2 linked regions of the Homo sapiens genome follow. The protein of the gene in region 1 purifies or fractionates together with the protein of each later gene. This does not show direct contact. Each region holds a gene or a part of one and is shown in the gene's direction. Other genes may lie near its edges.

What was found.
Region 2: the proteins of UBXN1 (region 1) and BTBD9 purify together in Homo sapiens (affinity purification with mass spectrometry; 4 studies listed by BioGRID and IntAct, with this or other methods). This does not show direct contact.

What each region holds. Positions count from the first base shown.
Region 1 is NC_000011.10:62,676,045-62,683,670, reverse strand, and holds UBXN1 (UBX domain-containing protein 1), read left to right. Parts: upstream 1-4,597; 5' UTR 4,598-4,747; coding exon 4,748-4,806; intron 4,807-4,927; coding exon 4,928-4,981; intron 4,982-5,069; coding exon 5,070-5,176; intron 5,177-5,262; coding exon 5,263-5,332; intron 5,333-5,552; coding exon 5,553-5,744; intron 5,745-5,838; coding exon 5,839-5,890; intron 5,891-6,036; coding exon 6,037-6,153; intron 6,154-6,665; coding exon 6,666-6,858; coding exon of another isoform or gene 6,859-6,953; exon of another isoform or gene 6,954-7,031; coding exon 7,032-7,081; 3' UTR 7,082-7,171; downstream 7,172-7,626.
Region 2 is NC_000006.12:38,587,930-38,594,963, reverse strand, and holds part of BTBD9 (BTB/POZ domain-containing protein 9), read left to right. Parts: intron 1-588; exon of another isoform or gene 589-628; coding exon of another isoform or gene 629-636; coding exon 637-1,000; intron 1,001-2,123; coding exon 2,124-2,388; intron 2,389-7,034.

The sequences.
Region 1 (7,626 bases):
CTGTAATCCCAGGACTTTGGGAGGCCAAGGTGGGCAGATCACTTGAGGTCACGTGTTCAAGACCAGCCTGGCCAACATGATGAAACCTCATTTCTACTAAAAATACAAAAAATAGCTGGGTGTGGTGGCGGGCGCCTGTAGTCCCAGCTACTCGGGAGGCTGAGGCAGGAGAATCGCTTGAACCAGGGAGGCAGAGGTTGCAGTGAGTTGAGATCGTGCCACTGCACTCCAGCTTGGGTAATGAGTGAGATTCCATCTCTAAAAACAAAAAAAGAATACATATGTTATCCTGAATACACTTGTTATAATACTGCAGTGAATACCCTGTGCCTTTTTTCCTTTTTTTTTTTTTTTTTTTTGAGACGGAGTCCCTGTCTCCCAGGCCGGAGTACAGTGGCGTGATCTCCACTCACTGCAAGCTCCGCCTCCTGGGCTCACACCATTCTCCTGCCTCAGCCTCCTGAGTATCTGGGACTACAGGCGCCTGCCACCACGCCCAATTTTTTTGTATTTTTAGTAGAGACAGGGTTTCACTGTGTTAGCCAGGATGGTCTAGATCTCCTGACCTCGTGATCCGCCCGCCTCAGCCTCCCAAAGTGCTGGGATTATAGGCATGAGCCACCGTGCCCGGCCTTCCTTAGCATTCATTTATTTACAAATAACGAGAGGTCATACTATCTCATTATTATTACTATTTATTTATTTCATTTTTTGAGACGGAGACTCTGTCTCAAAAAATAAATAAATAAAATAAAAAAATAAAGCCCATGCTTGTCACTCTACCGTGGAGAGGCAACATAGCATAGTGGTTTAGAGAACACACACTGCCTTGGGTTGAATCCTAGTTTTGTTATTTACTTTGTGACTTTAGGTAAATTATCTCATCTTGGCTGGGCATGGTGGCTCACACCTGTAATTCCAGCACTCACGCCTGTAATTCCAGCACTCACGCCTGTAATTACAGCACTCACGCCTGTAATTCCAGCACTGGGCATGGTGGCTCACGCCTGTAATTCCAGCACAAGGCAGGGGATGGCTTGAGCTCACAAGTTCGAGACCAGCCTGGGCAACATAGCGGAAACCTACCTCTACTATAATAAAAATACAAAAGTTAGCCAGGTGTGGTACATGCTACTTGGGAGGCTGAGGTGAAAGGATGGCTTGAGCCTGGGAGAAGGAGGTTGCAGTGAGCCAAGATTGTGCCACTGCTCTCCAGCCTGGGCAATAAAGCCAGACCTTGTCTCAGAAAAAAACCCATCTTTCCTTTTTTTTTTTTTTTTTTTTTTTTGAGACGGCCTCTTACTCTGTCACCAGGCTGGAGTGCAATGGCACAATCTTGGCTCACTGCAACCTCCGCCTCCCAGGTTCAAGTGATTCTCCTGCCTCAGCCTCTCAAGTATCTGGGATTACAGGTGTGTGCCACCACGCCTGGCTAATTTTTTGTATTTTTAGTAGAGAAGGGGTTTCACCGTGTTAGCCAGGATGGTCTCGAACTCCTGACCTCATGATCTGCCCGCCTCAGCCTCCCAAAGTGCTAGGATTACAGGCGTGAGCCACCGTGCCTGGCCAAAAAAAAAACATCTTTCTGAGTCTGTTTTTTGTTTTTTTATTTTTTTTTCTTGAGACAGAGTTTCACTCTTGTTGCCCAGGCTGGAGTGTAATGGCACGATCTCGGGTCACTGTAATCTCCGCCTCCTCGGTTCAAGCAATTCTCCTGCCTCAGCCTCCTGAGTAGCTGAGATTACAGGAGCCTGCAACTATGCCCGGCTAATTTTTATGTTTTTTTAAGCAGAGATAGGGTTTCACCATGTTGGCCAGGCTGGACTCGAACTCCTGACCTCAGGTAATCCACCCGCCTTGGCCTCCCAAAGTGCTAGGATTATAGGTGTGAGCCACCATGCCTGGCCTTGAGTCTGTTTTTTTGTGACTAAAAATAGCTTCTACATCATAGGGATTGTTGTGATGATTAAATATGGATTAATCATACAAAATTCTCTAGCAGGCCGGGCACGGTGGCTCACGCCTGTAATCCCAGCACTTTGGGAGGCCGAGGCAGGTGGATCACCTGAGGTAACAAGTTCGAGATTAGCTTGGCCAACATGATGAAACCCCTTCTCTACTAAAAAATACAAAAATTAGCCCGATGTGGTGGCGGGTGCTTGTAATCCCAGCTACTCGGGAGGCTGAGGCATGAGAACAGCTTGAGCTTGGGAGGCAAAGGTTGCAGTGAGCCAAGATCCCACCACTGCACTCTAGCCTGGCAACAAAGTGAGACCCTGTCTCTCTCACACACACACACACACACACACACACACACACACACACACACACAAGTCTCTAGTGCATATATTATCAATATCAGTAACTGTTATTGTCATTATTACTCTACCTTCTAATAAACATTTAAAGTGAGCTTCACTTTCAGGAATCTAACAGCCCGGGTAGTGGTGGAGCACAAAGTAATCAACAGTGACTCACAGCAGTGGGGATAAATGCTTAATGGGTTAAATACTGTAGCTGGAAGGCAGACAGCAGTGGTCAAAGCAGGCTTTTCTTAGAAGGCAAATCCTGAATCCTGAAAAACTCCTGGGAGTTAGTTTACTAAGTGAAGAGACAGGACATCCTAGGCGGAGACTGGTTGGTGCACAGGCCAAGAGGAGGGTGAAGTCTGGTTTGCAATATGCACAGCTTACCCTCAAGTGGTGGGTGATGAAACTGCACAATAACTACCAGCATTTACATACTCTGCCTTGCCAGGCACCAAAGTAGGTGCTATTGTGATCTCCACTTGAGAGGGGGTTCTAACCCCCCTCCCCGCAAAAAAAGCCAAGGTGGGCGCAGAAGGAAGTCAGACCACTAGCATTTAAGTTGTCCCAGATGGCCGAGTATGTAGCTCACGCCTTTAATCTTAGCACTTTGGGAGGGCGAGGCAGGTGGATCACTTGAGCTCAGGGGTTGGAGACCAGCCTGGCCAATATGGCGAAACCCCGTCTCTACAAAAAATAGAAAAATTAGGCCGGGCGCGGTGGCTCACACCTGTAATCCCAGCACTCTGGGAGGCCAAGGTGGGTGGATCATGAGGTCAGGAGTTCAAGACCAGCCTGGTGAAGATGGTGAAACCCCGTCACTACTAAAACTACAAAAATTAGCCAGGCGCGGTGGCAGCCACCTATAATCCCAGCTACTCGGGCAGGAGAATCGCTTAAACCCGGGGCAGGCAGAGGTTGCAGTGAGCTGAGATTGTGCCACTGCACTCCAGCCTGGGTTACAGAGTGAGATTTTGTCTAAAAAAAAAAAAAAAAAAAAAAAAAAAAGGAGAGAGAGAGAGAAAAGAAAAAGAAAAATTAGCCGGGTGTGGTGGCATGTGCCTGTAGTCCCAGCTACTTGGGAGGCTGAAGTGGGAGGATCGCTTGAGCCCAGGAGGCTGAGGTTGCAGTATGTCAAGATTGCACCACTGCACTCCAGCCTGGGCGACAGAGCCAGATCCTGTCTCAAAAACAAAAATAGCTGGGTGTGGTGGCTCACGCCTGTAATCCCAGCACTTTGGGAGGCCGAGGTGGGTGAATCACCTAAGGTCAGGAGTTCGAGAACAGCCTGACCAATATGGAGAAACCTCATCTCTACTAAAAATACAAAAATGGCTAGGCTCGTTGGCTCACGCTTGTAATCCCAGCACTTTGGGAGGCCGAGGCAGGTGGATCATATGAGGTCAGGAGTTCAAGACCAGCCTGACCAACATGATGAAACCCTGTCTCTACTAAATATACAAAAATTAGCCGGGCATGGTGGCGTGGGACTGTAATCCCAGCTACTCAGGAGGCTGTGGCAGGAGAATCGCATGCACCCAGGAGGCGGAGGTTGCAGTGAGCCGAGACCGCGCCACTGCACTCCAGCCTGGGCGACAGAGCGAGACTCCCTCTTAAAAAAAAAAAAAAAAAAAAAAAAAGCTGGGCATGGTGGTGGGCGCCTGTTATCTCAGCTATCCGGGAGGCTGAGGCAGGAGAAATGCTTGACCCGGGAAGCGGAGGCTGCAGTGAGCAGAGATCGCGCCACTGCACTATTGCACTCCAGTCTGGGCAACAAGAGTGAAACTCCATCTCAAAAATAAAAAATAAAAAAAAAAGTAAGTTGTCCTAGATGGTGGAAGTGTCACGGATTTTTAAGCAGGGAGGTGAAGACAGGACTACATGATTGTGTTTTGCAAAAATCCCTTTGGCAGTCAGGCAGAGGATGGCTCAATTCCCTAAGGAGAATGAGTGGGCCAAAGAGCAAGACATTTCTTCTGCTCCTGGCAAACATTGCCAAAGAACTTCCCAAAGCATTGCGCTAAGGGACCATATTCCTTCTAATTTCTAAGGAGGGTGAGGCAGGATGAAGTTCCGGGAACTGGCTTCATTCCGCCCACGGGTTTCAGAGCCGCACCAGCTTTCTTCCCCACAGCAGCCTGGCGCCTTGGCTTGGTGGGTTGCCTCCCTGTTCCCACCCACGGAAAGTCCTGGCAGCAGGGCCAGAAGTTTTATGGTTCTCAGCGGCACCCGTCGACATCCGCCCCCACGTGACCCAAACAGATCCGGCACTTCCGCTTCCCCTCGGCTTTCTTCTCGTCGGTGTTCCCGGCTGCTATAGAGCCGGGTGAGAGAGCGAGCGCCCGTCGGCGGGTGTCGAGGGCGGGTTGCCTCGCGCTGACCCTTCCCGCCCTCCTTCTCGTCACACACCAGGTCCCCGCGGAAGCCGCGGTGTCGGCGCCATGGCGGAGCTGACGGCTCTTGAGAGTCTCATCGAGATGGGCTTCCCCAGGGGACGCGCGTAAGGGAGTTCCCCAACCCCGGCCTGCGGGTGTGGGGGGTCGCGGACCTGTCTCGGCCTTTGCCCCAGCCTGACCGTCACCATGGCTCGTGGGCGCTATTCATGGTGTTTCTGCCCCCAGGGAGAAGGCTCTGGCCCTCACAGGGAACCAGGGCATCGAGGCTGCGATGGACTGGTAAGCGCTCGTCCCGGGTGGCGGAGAATTGGGGGCTGGCGGGAGGGGCAGCCTCAAAGCTAACCTCCCCGCCCACTTTCCCTGCCAGGCTGATGGAGCACGAAGACGACCCCGATGTGGACGAGCCTTTAGAGACTCCCCTTGGACATATCCTGGGACGGGAGCCCACTTCCTCAGAGCAAGGCGGCCTTGAAGGTCCTGACTGAGGGTCCACGGTGTGATTATTCAGGAGGGTCCGAGGAGAATCTGAAGGGATAATAATACCGATTGTTTGTTTGTAGGATCTGGTTCTGCTGCCGGAGAAGGCAAACCCGCTTTGAGTGAAGAGGAAAGACAGGAACAAACTAAGAGGTACAGTAACAACAATCTCACGTGTCTGAGGGTCGTCTTCCATCTCTCCCCAGTACACGTCTGGTCAAAGAACCTTGACCTTTCCACATTTCCTCTTTCTTGGCATTTTCTTTTCCTTTAATCTACTTTGGGATATATGTCGCCTAATTTTGTTTATTGTAAACTTTACACCTTCCCACTCTGTCCATTTCTCTTGAACTGTTTTCCCTCGGCAACACAGGATGTTGGAGCTGGTGGCCCAGAAGCAGCGGGAGCGTGAAGAAAGAGAGGAACGGGAGGCATTGGAACGGGAACGGCAGCGCAGGAGACAAGGGCAAGAGTTGTCAGCAGCACGACAGCGGCTACAGGAAGATGAGATGCGCCGGGCTGCTGAGGAGAGGCGGAGGGAAAAGGCCGAGGAGTTAGCAGCCAGGTCTGGGCAGGGGAAATGATGGATAGCAGATGAGAAAGAAATCAAGATTTGCTTTGTTGATGTCTGACCTAATTTCTTCTTGTCTACATTTCAGACAAAGAGTTAGAGAAAAGATCGAGAGGGACAAAGCAGAGAGAGCCAAGAAGGTAGGTGACTGAGAAGACGCCACGGGTAATGGAGTGGGCAGGTTAGTAAATCTTTTCCAGCTTCAGAGGGAAAGCATGGGCTTATATGATCTGTTTCACCTGAGGATGGGTGAGTACCTGATTGACTGTTTTACTTTGCCCTTTAGTATGGTGGCAGTGTGGGCTCTCAGCCACCCCCAGTGGCACCAGAGCCAGGTCCTGTTCCCTCTTCTCCCAGCCAGGAGCCTCCCACCAAGCGGGAGTATGACCAGTGTCGCATACAGGTACTGATTCTAATTCTTATCTTCCTCTTGGGACCCCTTTGTTCCGTGTTAAGGTGCCCAGCTCAGAGCTTTTTTCAGTTAACGTGCCCTTTGCCAAATCTCTCCCTTCTTTGTAAATGACTTTTGAAATCCTATCTCTACTCTTGGGAAAGGTATCAAATTTCACCTGCCCCAGTTGTATTTAAACCCATACCTCTCTCTTACTCAGCAGTTACCCTTTTACTTGTTCATGTTTTTATTTGGTTTATTATGTAGCTATCTGGTGATGTGGTATTTATCCAGATTCTTTTGTATAATCTTATCCTTGTCTTTCTTAGGTTGTGAGGGAGCTGGGAGTCTCTCATCCGCACTTAGTAAAGCGGAGCCTAAGTGGCTGTTCATTTGGTGCTTTAAATAGTAGTTGTGCTGGTTCAATCTAAGAAGAAGGGGGCCCAGCTTTAGCTCTTTTCCTTACTTGGGCACCTCATTCAGTTTTGATGCCCACAATACTGAGTATCTCCCTTGCCCTTTAGGTCAGGCTGCCAGATGGGACCTCACTGACCCAGACGTTCCGGGCCCGGGAACAGCTGGCAGCTGTGAGGCTCTATGTGGAGCTCCACCGTGGGGAGGAACTAGGTGGGGGCCAGGACCCTGTGCAATTGCTCAGTGGCTTCCCCAGACGGGCCTTCTCAGAAGCTGACATGGAGCGGCCTCTGCAGGAGCTGGGTATGGCTGCAAGACTAGAAACCAGGACTAGAAACTGGGGGAGTAGGGAGGCATGCCTAGGAAAAGGAGGGATGCAAAGAGAAGGGGCTTTGTGAACATGGTGCAAGGCCAGGAATTTTGGGAGCAAAAACCAAGTATCCTTGTGGTTCAAGCCTGTTTTCTTCCATCTTCAGGACTCGTGCCTTCTGCTGTTCTCATTGTGGCCAAGAAATGTCCCAGCTGAGGGCCTTTGTCCCATTGTCCCTCTGTGACCCCTTCATCTTTGATAAAGCACTGACATCTCCTTCCTAATAAATAGACCCTGAGTTCTGTACATGCCTGACTCCTTCCTGAATGGCTGGGAGGGACAAAACTAAGGCAGAGGAAGAGGCTAAAACGGAACAGTAGACCCTCTTCCTCATCTTTAGTTTCCAACAAAGACACTTGTTTGTAATCTCTGGGTCTGATTAACTGCTGGGGAAGTTGCGGAGGAGAGGTGCTAAAAGGGGTGGAGAGTACATTGGATGGCACCTTTTACTCCTATGGTAAGACAGAAAATAAAAGCCCAGCTGCTGCTTTTTTATTTTTATTTTTGAGACGGAGTCTTGCACTGTTGCCTGGGCTAGAGTGCAGTGGCGCAATCTCAGCTCACTGCAACCTCTGCCTCCCAGGTTCAAGCGATTCTCCTGCCTCAGCCTCCCTAGTAGCTGGGATTACAGGCACCCACCACCACGCCCAGCTAATTTTTTCCATTTTTAGTAGAGACGGGGTTTTGCCATGTTGGCTAGG
Region 2 (7,034 bases), on another chromosome or scaffold:
CAGTATGTTTTCTTACACATTTTTCTTTACTGTATTACTTCCCTAGAATTGAGTCCTAAAAGAGAGATTACTGAGTTGAAGGGTATGCACATTTTAGATTTGACTAGATGCTACTAAATTACTTTCCATAAAGGGCTGCCATTTATACTCTCAAAGCAGCATATCAAAGAACATGTTTTTCCATTGCTTTTGCAGCACTGATATTAACAAGCCTTTTAATTTCTGCCAGTCTTACAGGGGAGAATGGCATCATATTAGTGTTTATCTGATTATATCTTTTCCTATAGAGTTTTACTTTTTAAATTGCCTTATTGACCTTTAACATCTTTATATCAACTTCATTGTGCCTCTCAAAAGATCACTCTCATCTTTCTATTTAATATCTGTCACATATCTTGAGCTTTCAGAGTATCTCATTAGTTCAGTGGCTTACAGAATTAATTCAAATAGTTTTAAAATCATTCCTCTTGTGTCCTGTAAAGAACCATTTTAAATGATTACTTTGCATTTTTTCACTTGGATCTTTGTGTCATTAAAAAAATTTATATTTGCATAATGTTGATAACTGTTATTTCCAATATTTTGTAGCAAATCCTATTTGAGGGTTTCTTCATGTGTTTCTTCCCTGATGTGCAGAGCATTATTATATGGTGGAATGCGAGAGTCTCAGCCTGAAGCAGAAATTCCTCTCCAAGACACCACTGCAGAAGCATTCACAATGCTACTCAAATATATCTACACTGGGCGGGCAACGCTGACAGATGAGAAGGAGGAGGTGCTGCTGGACTTTTTGAGCCTGGCTCATAAATATGGATTTCCAGAGCTAGAGGATTCTACCTCTGAGTATCTCTGCACCATACTTAACATTCAGAATGTCTGCATGACTTTTGATGTTGCCAGTCTCTACTCACTTCCCAAGTTAACTTGTATGTGCTGCATGTTTATGGATAGGAATGCTCAGGAAGTCCTCTCAAGTGAAGGTTTCCTCTCCCTTTCTAAGGTGTGTCATTTGTCTACAAGTAATTTATAGGCATGCATTGTTTTATTTATACCTATACTGTAGAAGTATAGCAATGGACTAAGAATAATAAAAAAAATCATTGGTATCAAAGCGTTATCATTGGTTATCTGGTCTAGCCACTTGCATCTAGCTACCAGGACTCTAGATCATAAAAGAGAGGGGCTGGTTGGTTGTGTTTTCTTTTAAGGTTCTTCAGGTAAGTTTTATGTGCAAAAGAGACTGTGCTGCTGTGTGGTTGTTTTCAAGGTAGTGACAATCAAATAGGGTCCTTTTTGGTATTGCATACTACCTTTTGGTTTTGTTTTTCTCTGACAGAGAGTGTGACTAATAATTCCTTAGAGCAAGCAGGCAAATTCATAGAGGAGATCTGATGCAACATTTGATGTCTTTAAGTCCCTGCTTTTTTTGCTGGCTTAAAATTCAGTATTATAGCTAGAGTAAAACTGTTTTGCTCAAATCTTCCTTTGAACTCTGGGTAGTGATTGTCTCTCCATTTGCCTTGTTGTGTTCCTTCTAGAACCTGGATATTTCTAATGAGAAAAATCTATTGAAAAGCTACATATCTTGATTTGAGTGTAAATTAAGATCTGTGTTATCCTATTTCATTTTTTTCTACTTAATTTTTAAAGACAATGATCTTTGAGGGTTGCAACATTGTTCCTGGAGGTCAGTTTGGAGATCTGAGAGCCAAAAGTATGGTAGTGAAGTAATACTGTGGAACAAAATTTGAATTTTAAATGCCAAATATGTCTTTCTAACTTAACAATGTACACTCTCTTGAAGAATCTGAATGTATTGACAGCTTTTCACTTTGGCGTTTTTCTTTTTGCTGTTTTAAAAAAGATGAATGCAGATGTGTTTGGAAAGATTAAATGTTTGATGTAGTGGTACAAGATACCTGAACATAAAAGAATGGTGCTACCGTCTTGGTTGTTTACACAGCCATAATGAGTAGGAGAATATGTGGCACAAAGCATAAGGGAAGGAGAGGGTCAAAAAGAGTTAATTGGCTAAGTTATACTTGTCCTGTAAGCTTTTACTGATTGGTCATGCAGTGGTTGAACTTCATATAACTGGAATTTTACCTTTTTATCCTTTTCAGACAGCACTTTTAAACATCGTGTTAAGAGACTCATTTGCAGCTCCCGAAAAAGATATTTTCCTAGCCTTATTAAACTGGTGTAAGCACAATTCAAAGGAGAATCATGCTGAAATCATGCAGGCTGTGCGTTTACCTCTCATGAGCCTCACAGAGCTTCTGAATGTTGTGAGGCCTTCAGGACTGCTGTCTCCTGATGCCATCCTGGATGCCATTAAAGTGCGATCTGAGAGCCGGGATATGGACCTCAATTATAGAGGCATGCTCAGTAAGTACCTGTCTATCCTAAACTCAACCAAGAAGCTTGGTATGCCTCTCATGCCATTAAAACCGCAAAGCTACTACAGAACCGTGTAGTGCAGGTGTACATGAAATATGTACGTTTATAAACAGCTAGCCTATGGAATGTCTTTCCCTTTCATTTTCCTGTTAATTCCTCCTGAGATTGATTAGCTTTTGTAGACCCCCAAATAGGTATTTCTTGCCATTCCTGGACAGATTTCTCAACTCCTCCCCAGAATGTCAGAAATGGACACTTTCCTAAAAAGCTGCTGCTCATGTTAAGACCTTTTCTTCCTTCCTCCATCAAATAAATACTGAGTACATTCTATGTACTTATTATTTTGGGTACCATGAACATGGAGATTCTTTTTTTTTTTTTTGAGATGGAGTTTCACTCTTGTTGCCCAGGCTAGAATGGAAGTTGCAATCTCGGCTCACTGCAACCTCGCCTCCCAGGTTCAAGCGGTTCTCCTGCCTCAGCCTCCTGAGTAGCTGGGATTACAGCCACCCGCCACCACACTCGGCTAATTTTTATTTTTAGTAGAGACGGGGTTTCACCATGTTGGCCAGGCTGGTCTCAAACTCCTGACCTCAGGTGATCCACCTGCCTTGGCCTCAGAAAGTGCTGGGATTACAGGCATGAGCCACCACGCCCGGCTGAACATGGAGATTCTAAATAACAATAATAATAGCTAACACTTATGTAACATACATACATAAGGTAGCTAACACTTATGATACTTATCACCACTTAAGTGGTGATTTTTCTTATTAATGGATTTATAGCAATTAACACTTACAGAGTGCATAGTATGTATCAAGAACAGGTCCTACACGATTTAATTCTCACAACTCTTTGAGGTATATACTGTTATTGACTCCATTTTACACAATGAGGAAACTGAAACAGAGAAGTTAAGTAACTTGCCCAAGGTCACACAGAAAGATGACAGAGCTGAGAGTCAAACCTATGTAGTTTGGCTCCAGAAGTTGTGTAATTAACCACTAAACTATGCTGCATAATTGTTAAACATAGTCTCTGCCTTTGATCCTTTTAATTTCATTGTGGAAATAAGACATAAACTCCCATGAAAAGTTAAATACAACAATATTCAAGGGAGTACATGTTATAGAACTTCAGAAGAAGTGGCTTGGTATGGTTGAGGGAGATTTCATGGAGGTTATGAAGCTTGAGTTGAGCCTTGACATTTGATTTGAATAGTATAAGAGTTGGGTGAATTTCAGATGGGAAGAATCATGAGGTTAATAGACAGAGGTTAGAGCATTTGAAGAGACCATAAATAGAAGAGCTTGATTAGAGTAGAAGGCTTTTATTGATTAATAGCAAAGAAACTATGTGAAGGTCAGCTTAGGCCAGTTTATGGAAGTCTTGGAAACTAGATTGGAATCTCCCTTACATGCAGTGAGGAACCAATTTGAGAGAGGGAGAGTGGCATGCATGCAGTGGTGGTTTTGAAAGACTGATCCATAGTGCTGTATTTGAGTATTTAGAATAGGGGAAAACTGATTCAGAGAGACCAGTGAGGAGAGTATTTAATCTGTGCACAATTGATACTACCTCAAACCAGATTGGTGGCAGGGAAAATGGAAAATAATGGATGATTAGAACGGATACAATGGAAAAAAATAGATCTTGATGATTCAAGGGATATAAATGTGGGGATTAAGTTTAGGAGAAAGTTACCATTTGTTATCAAATCTAAGAAGCCAGAAATTCTCAGGCACCATTATTTTATGTTCCACTAAGAAAAGAAACAATACTGCCAATTAACTGTGACACACTATGATGTCTACACTGCGATTTCAGAAATTTAAAAATTTGAACACTAGGTATGTCTGTAATGAAATACAGTACAGTACTTCTTTGAAGAAGATGCTGAGCTTGATTTTTAGATTGAGTTTGAGGGTTTTGGGGTTGCAAGTTGTAACTTCTGTCCCAAACTAGTCATTTCCCTGAGTTATCTCTTCTTGACTATGCCTTTAAACATTCTCTTGAAATACTGATTGATCTTAAATAGATGTTCTTAACAGAATTCTCTCCTGACTTATCAGGTCTAGATTTCTTTTCACTGGGCATAGGAGAAGAAACATAGGTTTTGGCCCAGACAAATTTGACTTCAAATCCTGAATTAGTCACTTACTAGTTGTACAATCTGGTATTAAATTATTTAAGGAATTTTACCTTTTATATCTCCTAGCATTGTTATGAGACTTAATTAAAATAATGTGTGCAAGCTCAATATAGGAAACCATTGTTACCATATATCATTATGATGTGTTTTTTTTTCTGTGTATATCTGTGTGAGAATTACCACCTTGATCACATTGTTTTAAACATTTTTGTTTACTTGTCTTTGATCCTTGAAGGCAGAGATGATCTTTATAGGCCTTATTGATCTCTATATCCTCAACATTTAACACACCAAATAGCATATAATGGGTAATTGGTGAATGCTTGGTGAATGCTTAGTGAATGAATGCAGGGAGAAATGTCTAATAGGAAATAGGAACACATTACTCTTTAGGACCAGTCAAAGCTGGTGATAAAAGAGTTGAAACCTGAGCTGCTAGAGTATAGAAAAAGAAGTAAAAAACAAAGTCTGAAACTTGGAGAAAACCTATTGCCAGGGGACTTAAGGTAGAGAAGGAAGAAGGAAGACATTTGGGATAGAATAGAGTTACAGAGGACAACCGGAGGAGAGAGCTTTCCTATGGATCCAATGGTCAATGGTAGCTCACGATAGGGAGGTCAAGAAAATTGAGAGACAACTTTTGGATATAAATTGTGATTAGTTGATAAGTAATCTGGACAGAAGATTGGCTGCCAGGGAATTAGGCCATGGATGTTTGAAAAGATAATAGAGATAACATATTGTCTGTCTGATTTGTGAATTGGATTGTAAGGTAGTAAAAAAATAGTATGGTAGCTAGAGAGATCAGGTTGGGAGAGGTCCAGGAAGAAATCAGAGGTGCTAGAGAATGGTACTAGTTAAGTGTCAGCCTTGGATAAAGTGTGGGAGGATGGCAAGTGAAGAGGTAGTAAGATGAGTAATTAGTGTTAGGCTTTTCAAATTATCATGTCGGATCCTGTCTTATATAAGTTCCTTTCCCTCTCTTGCCCTGCATTTGATTTGAAGTGCTGAAAAGGCCCTAGAACTGGATTCATTATAGGGATAATCTTGGGACATGTTTGCAGGAGTGAGGATTTGTTTTGGACATTTCACATGGTTACTGGTAGTTTGGAATTGATCAACTGGTCAGTATAAGGGTAGTACCTGGGTTACAAGAAACTCAGGAGATGAGTTGCGAAAGGGAGAACTTAGCCAGTTGAGTCACTCAGTTCTGGAATGACACATACACAGATTGTTGTTCATCAATGTTAAATTCTTCACTTTGAAGTGAATGAGGGGGAGCTCAAGGAAGAGACTATGTAAATGTTTGGGAATCCTTTATCTAACTTCTGAACTTGAGTAATGATTAAGTAAGTCTGTTTTTCCTGACTTTTAAAGCATGTGAATAATAAAATCAATAATATAAATACAAGGAAGCATTACACTTCCCTGTCAGACCCTGAAAAGATAGGTTTTTTTAATTCAATCATCTTTATTAATCTATCAGTCTTACATTTTATACATGACATCTAGTCGTATTCTAAAAGGGCTCTACTTTTAGTACATCATGTTAATAGCAGAAAGCCAAGTAAGATGACTAAACCTTACACTAGCATTTTAATATCCTCTGGACAAGGGAAGCTAGGTCAATCACTTTACATACATGTAAGAGTAGTGTTCCAAAATAACTAAGAAGTTGCTATATTTTTAAGCAGGGAGGAAAGAACTTTGATTTTGGTCTTTGTGTTCCAGCAAATTATACTTTCAATTAACAGCAACAAAGATATAACAAATGCTCTGCTTTTAAAATTTGTGAACTTCATTACAGATTAAAACAGTACTGGAGTCTTTTGGGAGGCCAATAGCTAGCAGCTACATTAATTGGTGTAGATAAGCCTCGTTATCGATAACCAGGTCCAGGTTTGGTATAGCCCTGACCAAAGGGAGGACATATAAGGATTAGGCCCAGTTGGAGGAGGGGTCATGCTACTTACAGGAAGTGAAGTAAAACTTGATCTTGGTCTATAGGCCCCAGGTTGGCTTGGAGCCATTCTAGGTTGAGAGGCAGGGGCCACAGTATAATTAGTAGGCTGAAAAGTTTGGGTAGTATAAATTTGTGCAGGATAATTGCTTGCCTGGTACTGTGTGGCAGCTGAGCAGGCAGTTGTTGAGGCTGACCAAAAAGGCAGGAGCTGGTGCCTGGGTAGTTGGTTGCTGGCCATATCCTTGGAACTGCTGAGGTTGTTTGGAGTCCAGTCTGCTGACTCTGGCTTTTTGAATACTGAATACCATACTGTTGAGGCTGCTGAGGTAGAGCCCGCAGACACGGTGCACCATAGCTAGCCTGTTGCTGGTACTATTGATACAGCTGACTTTCAGTCTGACCTGCTTGTATCTTAGCTTCTGTATATGGTGGTTGCTGTGGCTGAACTCCTGGTGGGTGAGCTGCTACTGAGGAGGAGGCGGCAATGCTGTCAGATGTTCCTGAACAGTCTTCTGC